Linked DNA regions of Homo sapiens. The protein of the gene in region 2 purifies or fractionates together with the protein of the main gene of each other region. This does not show direct contact. Each region holds a gene or a part of one and is shown on either strand. Other genes may lie near its edges.

Region 1 (3,652 bases), on a different chromosome or scaffold from region 2:
ATTCAGAGATGGGGGCCCCTTCTCCTTGGGAGTCAGGTTGCCTCCTTTGACAGAACCCCTACATACCCCTTGTGCCGCTAGCCCCAGCTTGACTGTACCCTCCTCCTGCCCCTAGTAGGGGCCCTCTTCCTTGGCTTCAGCCTTGCCCAGCTGCCAGAGGGTGGGAGCAGGACAGGCCTGGGCCCATCAGTTGCTGCAGCTGCTGCACAGGCTCCCAAGCCCCTGGGCAAAGACTGGGATGGGCCCCAACAGGCAGGGAGTGTGGCAGCGTGCCGAGGGGGAGAGGTGGGGCAGGCCCGTTGGGATCTGCTCCCCAAAGACAGGCCCTAGCCCTCACTCATGGGCCTGGAATTGGGGAGTGGAGGGAGGGAAGAACACACCCAGGAAAGGCAAGTCCCAGAGCCAGGTGTATATATCTTAGTGGGGGATTTTGGGGAATAGCAAGCAGTTCAGTTCTGTATTCTTCCCATGATAGAAGGTGACTAGGAGGCATCAGGGGCTCTGCTACTCTCCCTGCTTTCCTGTTCAACCCTGGTTCCTGGAACACACCCTGCATTCTCAGCAGCCACCTCCCCACAGGAATCATGCTCACATGGTCCCCTCTGCACGGAGCCCTCTGCCAAGCCAGATCCTTTTCTCCATCCTTGGAAGTCTGCAGTGGAGAGAAATCATTCTATAACTGAACAGCTCGTTTGACTGATGGGAAACTGAAGTCCCAGAGACGATTTCTGGGCCTAGCCTGCTTTCTCTAGAAAGTATTTTCAAGTCTGCTGCTGAGCACCTGTGGACTGGCATCTTTGACCGTTCATCCTACACACTGCAACAGAGATCATACCTTGCCTGTGTAGTCTTTTCTCCCCAACAGAAACTAAGCATCTGAATGCCAGGGACCATATCTTCGACTTTCTCCAGGTTTCCTTAGGTAGTGGTGCTGTGTTAAGCACAAAACAGATGCTCAGAAAATATCTGTTGAGTAATTAAATAAACAAGAATGGATCTGCTCAGCCAAGATCTTGCTGCATCTCATTACTCGTTATCTTCTCTACTCAGAAGGGAGCCCATCAAAGGGAGACTGTGACCCCTGGCACATCAGGAAAGGGCAGTCAGGAAAGCTTGGGAATCCCTGGTTTTGACCTGGGGGAGTAGAGTGTGACACTTTTCTCTTCTCAGGCACCTGTATCAAGTGCAACAAAGGCATCTATGGGCAGAGCAATGCCTGCCAGGCCCTGGACAGCCTCTACCACACCCAGTGCTTTGTTTGCTGCTCTTGTGGTGAGTGTAGCCCCAATACTCAAGCACTCCCCTCCCCTGCCCACATACACACTTACAAGTGCTATGGGGAACAGGAGGAGAGCTTGTGCCTCTTCATTTGCTCACAGAGCAGCTGTTGGATCCCCACCAAGTGTCTGGAGGTCCGCAGCTGCTCTGCCTCTCTTGCTTCCCTGTCTGTCCTCTACTTGGCTCTCCCTCCGCCTGGTGGGTCCCCTTTCTGGAGTCCCTCCTTCCTTCCTCACCTCTGTTTCTCCCTCTCGTGCTTCCCTGCTTGCCCATCCTGGACTTGCCTGGCCCTCCAGCTTCTTGGTGGGGCTTGGTCTTGGGCAGCCAAGTTGCCTGGGGCGACAGTGAAAGACTGGAATGTGGGGAGGGTGGGGGCAGGCTGGGGGAGTGGGGAGCTGTTTGGGGCGGAGAGGGGGGTTTTCTCTTGGCTGGTCAGAGTTCAGCCACCTCACTGGAGTGCAGGCCACCGGGCCATGCCAAGCTGATGACATCACGCTCCAGGAATGCCTGCCACTGTTAGCTCAGGAGGCCCACTTGGAAAGGGGGGATGCTCCCAGCGGCCTTAACTGCCCCCCTCCCCTCCCTCATTACCCCCTCCTTACTGCTTACCCATTCTGATTCCTTTGCTAAACCTTTAATCTCCTATCTCTGCCTGTCTGACTTCAGCACTCAGCTTTTCTCACTCCCCCAGTTTCTGCCTGGTTCTCTTTAGGCTCATCTGTCTGTCTATCCTTCTGTTTACAGGGCCTCTTCTGGCTATATCTCTTTCCCTATCTTTCCTCCCCTGTGTCTCATGAGCTTCTAAGTCAGCTTTCCTAACCCACTGGACAGAGTTGGAAGTAGGGATTTTGAGGGGAAGAAGGCAAAGGTGGGAAAATTGCTCATGCTCCACCTGTTCTCACTCCTTCCCTATCCCTGATAATGTAGACACCTGGGAGCAGTTCCTGGGGGTTGGTCACATGGGGAATTGTCCTGCCTTGTCTGCTGGAAGAAGATCCTGGGTTGTCTCTTACCCCAGTGACTCTGGGTCCCTCTAAGCTTAGGGAAGCAGCCTTATACAAACAGGAGAGGGGACCTGCTTTGCTTCCAAACAAAGCACTTTGTCCTTCTGCAGTAACTCCAGTCCTGACCTCCATGGAGTCTGTCCCTGGAAGGAGACAGGCATTTGAGAGCAGGATAGATATGCTCAGGCAAAGAGGCTTCTAGGTTGAAGGGTCCCAGAGGGAAAGGCCTGTTAACAATGTGGTTCTCTCTATGCAAATCATATAGCACCTTATTAAGAGCTCACGTATTCCAGCACGTAGTTGGCTTTACTCTCCCAGGTGGCTTCCTATGCACTGGAGAGGAAGGCAGTTTGTTTAGGGGAGGGGCCCTAGAAAACTGTTAAGGAGGCAGGAGCTGGAGGAGCAGCAAGCAGAGGAGAGGGGAAGTTGGCTGGAATGAAGCCAAAGCAAATTGGAATTGCATCAGATGGAATTTTTGTGCGGGGAAGGACAGACAGCAGTTAGGAGGAAAAGCACAAAGTCCAGGTTTAAATATATTATGCAGCAGCGGGGAGCAGTGACCCCAGAAGTCTTGCACCTGGGCTGTGGGATAGGTTCCAGCCCCTTCTCTATTGTTTCTAGGGCGAACTTTGCGTTGCAAGGCTTTCTACAGTGTCAATGGCTCTGTGTACTGTGAGGAAGATTATCTGGTGAGTAAGGGTCACCTGGACCTGGAATTGGTTTCCATACTGACCCCCTTCTTGGTGGCCCATTGGAGTACCACCCATCATTCTCAGTTTGATAACAGCCTCCGTTCGTCTTGTCTTTTACTTTAGTTTTCAGGGTTTCAGGAGGCAGCTGAGAAATGCTGTGTCTGTGGTCACTTGATTTTGGAGAAGGTAAGTAAAGTGCTTTCAGCTGAGAAGTCTCACTGTGAGGCTGAGGAGCGGGATCAGGGACTAAATGGATATTGAGAGAAGGTTGGGGAAAGAAGCCTGTCACCAGATGAATCACTTTCATCCCATTCCTCCCCAGAGCAACTGTTTACAGTGGCTTCCCTCTGCCTATGGGATCAAGTCTGGGCTCAAAAGCCTGTCAACCCAGGCTTCTATGACCTAGCCCCTCCCTAACTCTGCAGGCACAGCCAGGCCTTCCAGCCTGAGCTAGGAGTGTGGGGTCCTGAGTCTTTTTTTTTTTTTTTTTTTTGAGACAGAGTCTCGCTCTGACAAAGTGGAATGATCTCGGCTCACTGCAACCTCCGCCTCCCAGGTTCAAGTGATTCTAGTGCCTCAGCCTCCCAAGTAGCTAGGACTACAGGCATGCGCCACCATGCCTGGCTAATTTTTGTATGTTTAGTAGATAAAAGGTTTTGCCATGTTGGCCAGGCTGGT
Region 2 (3,652 bases):
TCTAGCACATTTCCAGACAACGAAGCTGGTCCCAGGACCACGCGCTAAGAACCACTAGCTTGTTCTTTCACTGCCCTCCTACTCAGGCTGAGGAGCAGGGGGATGGATTGTACCCCTGGAGCTGAAAGGCAGCACGGCAGCACTGTCTTTGCACGGTCCATTGTGTGGTCTGCACAGTGATGTGCCAAGAAGGGGCTCATGATCAGTTTCTTCATGCAGTCCTTGCACAGTCTCCTCCCTGACAAGGTGGATGGCTCTTTGTCATTACTAATTCTCTGAAGACAGTCATAAAATACAATGATAAAGAAGCAACGCTGTTAGAACAAGCATATAGCCTCCCGGTTTGAAATGCTTTGAAAACAAACCATAGCCATAACACAGATAACACACTTCCTATTTAAATTAGTCATTCTAATTAATTCCTTTAAAATCCCGGCATCTATATTCGCAGCTCTCTTGTCACAGGTTTGGCCACTATGTCCTCAACTCCAACGGTACAAACCTCTTCGGTGTTAATGGCCTCTTTCGTATTTCTTTCTTTTCTTGGTTGGGCTGTTCTGAATTGTAGATAATCTTTCAGTGTTTGTGGCTAAGCCGGTTTGCTGTGCCTGCCCTGGGTTATTTTTCATAAGATGTCTGGAGGAGAGACTTTCCAAAACATGCAACTCTTCCTTAGACGTGGTTTTTGCCAAATCTTGTTTCAAAAGTAACCCTGGATCTGACAACTCTGAAGCTGGCAAAACCCTGACAGCTTTGCTTTTTTCCACTATTATTTCTCTCGGGACTAATCGATCACTTCCAAGAGAAACTCTCCCGTGGTGGTCGAAGTCTTCCGCAGAGCTGCAGTTCCTGCGTTTCTGTTGGGTTTTGGCCACTCGTGGACTTTGTTTTGGACATGGTGATGCTGACTCACAGCTACAGACGGGGCTCCTGCTTAGAAGCCCTGTCTTTAACCGCTCCCCAGGATGAGGTTTTTGCTGGCCACTAGTGTCTTCTGGCTGGGTCTGATTAACTTTTTCCAGCTTTTGAACAGGAAGCCCCCAGTGGCTCTCAGCTGCCTTTATGGAATCCTTTGCTTGTCCCATGGATTCTGATGGGGGACTGGAGGAAGCCTGACCATCATTCCTCCTCCTTGCTATCTCTGCAATCACTGAGTCACTAGATGTTTCCACAGTGTCTCTTCTGGTCTGCGATTTGCTCGTGACACTGCTTTTTGTTTCAGTTCTTTTCACACTGAAACAAACAAAAATGATTTTATGGTTTGTAAAGCTGTCACTGCACTGTTTCCTCCAGATTCCCTCTACCACATTTCCTACACCTGAAAAAGGAGGCAGGCACTACCTGCCCTCTCGCTTCCCCAGCAAATCTGGAAACACTCCCCACCACAGGTGTATGTTTAAATGCAGACTGAATCAAGCAAAAACCTTCACATATTCCATTATACATGATACTGCTTATCAATCATTGGGTTAAAAATGGATTTATGATGGCGTTCACATTTTAACTAAGGTAAATAGGTATTCATTTCCAATGTTAAGGGTCAGTACTGCCTATATACTGATTTTTTTTTTCCAGGAGTAGACTCAGGCTCTGTGTACACAAATGTACACATACACACAATTTCTACTTGTGAGTAAAGAAAAATCTTCTGGAATTTCTCTCAGGCTATTTCAAGATGTTACCCAAATATAACCACCATTTAGCTGGTATCAGGTTTGTTGACCAAACTTGATCAACAAATGGGAGTAGGACTTAGTTAATATAATTTGAAATGTCCTGGAAGAAATTTCAGATAGTCAGCATGAAAGGCAATAAAATACAATCGTGGAAGACAAAAGAGTGTCGATATAGCTGTATATAAGCCCCTTGCTCCTTACAGCGTGCACAACAGACAATGTAACTTCACTCTGATGATAAAGTGAACTTTGAGGGGCAGGATAGAAGCTGCACAGGGAGAATTAGAGACTAAAGATGTTAACTTCAGCATATATTTACAGGTTTGTGAATGGCAAGAAATTTCCTCAACCACCAAAACATTGAAAGCTGAAATATTTATTTCGGCTAGCTTCAGTGTGAAAACAAATACATGTAATATTCATGTTCTTACTGTTGACACCAGGAGCATGAGGATTATCGTAATTATATTAAAGTCGGAACAAGGATCCTAGGAAAGGAATTTTTTTTTTTCTAGATCTGTCTGTAGTCCCTCCGAAAGTGGTATGAAACACACCACCAACAGGTGCTTTTCATCTTCAAAGAACGTGTCATTAATTACTCCTTGCAACACACCTGTGAAGCAAGGATTCTATCCCTATTGTCCAGAAAGCAAGAGAGTCAGGAGGGAGGGGAGAGTAAGTACGTGACGGAGGGGAGTTTGTGCTTCAGTTCCAGGCACTCTGTTTAATTCTGGACTTCATGTTATCTATCCATACATAGAGACAGGCAAAAATGAGAAAAAGGAAACACATTGCACCTACATTTCTTTCAGAGCATTTCTCCGGAGCTTTGCACTGGGAGGAAGTGAACTCTCTGCACACTCAGCAAAGTAATCAGACACTCCATGGAGAACTCTTTCTGTCTACTCCAAAAGATAACAAAGGTTCAACCAGAAATCTATTAGCTGAACATGAGAGAAAACAGTTACACTCTGAATGCCCCAATGAACACATTTATTTTTGTAAAGACTGAATGAAACTGCTCAGTGGTAAGCTATTTTAACCTTTTTTACCTAGGACTTTATGGTTAATTGTAACTTCTTTTGGACTCCCAGTCCACATTTCATACATTAACATGCGTCATAAACATACAAAACTGTAAGGCAAATAATGTTGATTCCAAACCATCTGGGAACTCTTGGCCAATATCTGGTATCTGTGAGGCTCAGGCTGTGACAAAAGCCCCAGAATCCTACTGTGTGGGGCAACGTGCCTGTGAGCTCTGTTCTTCTAGCAAGACCTGGTGACACAGTGGTCTACACCCTTATCATCCTAAGAATTCCCCATATTTTCTCTATCTGCAAAAACAAAGAATATTTTGTGGCCGGGTGCAGTGGCTCACGCCTGTAATCCCAGCACTTTGGGAGGCCGAGGCAGCCAGATCACGAGGTCAGGAGATCGAGACCATCCTGGCTAACACGGTGAAACCCCGTCTCTACTAAAAATACAAAAAAAACTAGCGGGACGTGGTGGCAGATGCCTGTAGTCCCAGCTACTTGGGAGGTTGAGGCAGGAGAATGGCGTGAACCCGGGAGGCGGAGCTTGCAGTGAGCCGAGATGGCACCACTGCACTCCAGCCTGGGCAACAGAGCGAGACTCTGTCTCAAAAAAAAAAAGAATATTTTATCACACCCAAGACCATAGCAACAGTCAAATCTTTTAATATTGGTATTTTGAAAACTGTAGTTTGTGATTCTTGGCTACCAAAAAATTCGGGACTTTTTTCCTTATACTAACCACCACTCTGGTTTTATATAATTCATAGATTATCTGCCTATCTAGCCTTTTGTGTTCCCATGGAAGCATCATAAGGAAGTAATTATAAAATGTAAAAGCCTACCTACCTTGCCAACATTAACCCATTTCATGCTTTTGGAATCTCTTCTCCTTTTGGTTATCAAGTAGATAATCCATACAAGGTGTTAACTCCTCATATT

Evidence for each region. The genes of interacting proteins can lie anywhere in the genome.
Region 1: the proteins of SLX4IP (region 2) and AJUBA purify together in Homo sapiens (affinity purification with mass spectrometry; 2 studies listed by BioGRID and IntAct, with this or other methods). This does not show direct contact.

Annotation. Positions count from the first base shown.
Region 1 is NC_000014.9:22,975,964-22,979,615, reverse strand, and holds part of AJUBA (LIM domain-containing protein ajuba), read left to right. Parts: intron 1-394; exon of another isoform or gene 395-579; coding exon of another isoform or gene 580-683; exon of another isoform or gene 684-1,009; intron 1,010-1,170; coding exon 1,171-1,272; intron 1,273-1,514; exon of another isoform or gene 1,515-1,789; intron 1,790-2,773; exon of another isoform or gene 2,774-2,903; coding exon 2,904-2,971; intron 2,972-3,097; coding exon 3,098-3,160; intron 3,161-3,652.
Region 2 is NC_000020.11:10,620,240-10,623,891, reverse strand, and holds part of SLX4IP (protein SLX4IP), read right to left. Parts: intron 2,579-3,652; coding exon 2,478-2,578; intron 1,234-2,477; coding exon 513-1,233; 3' UTR 1-512.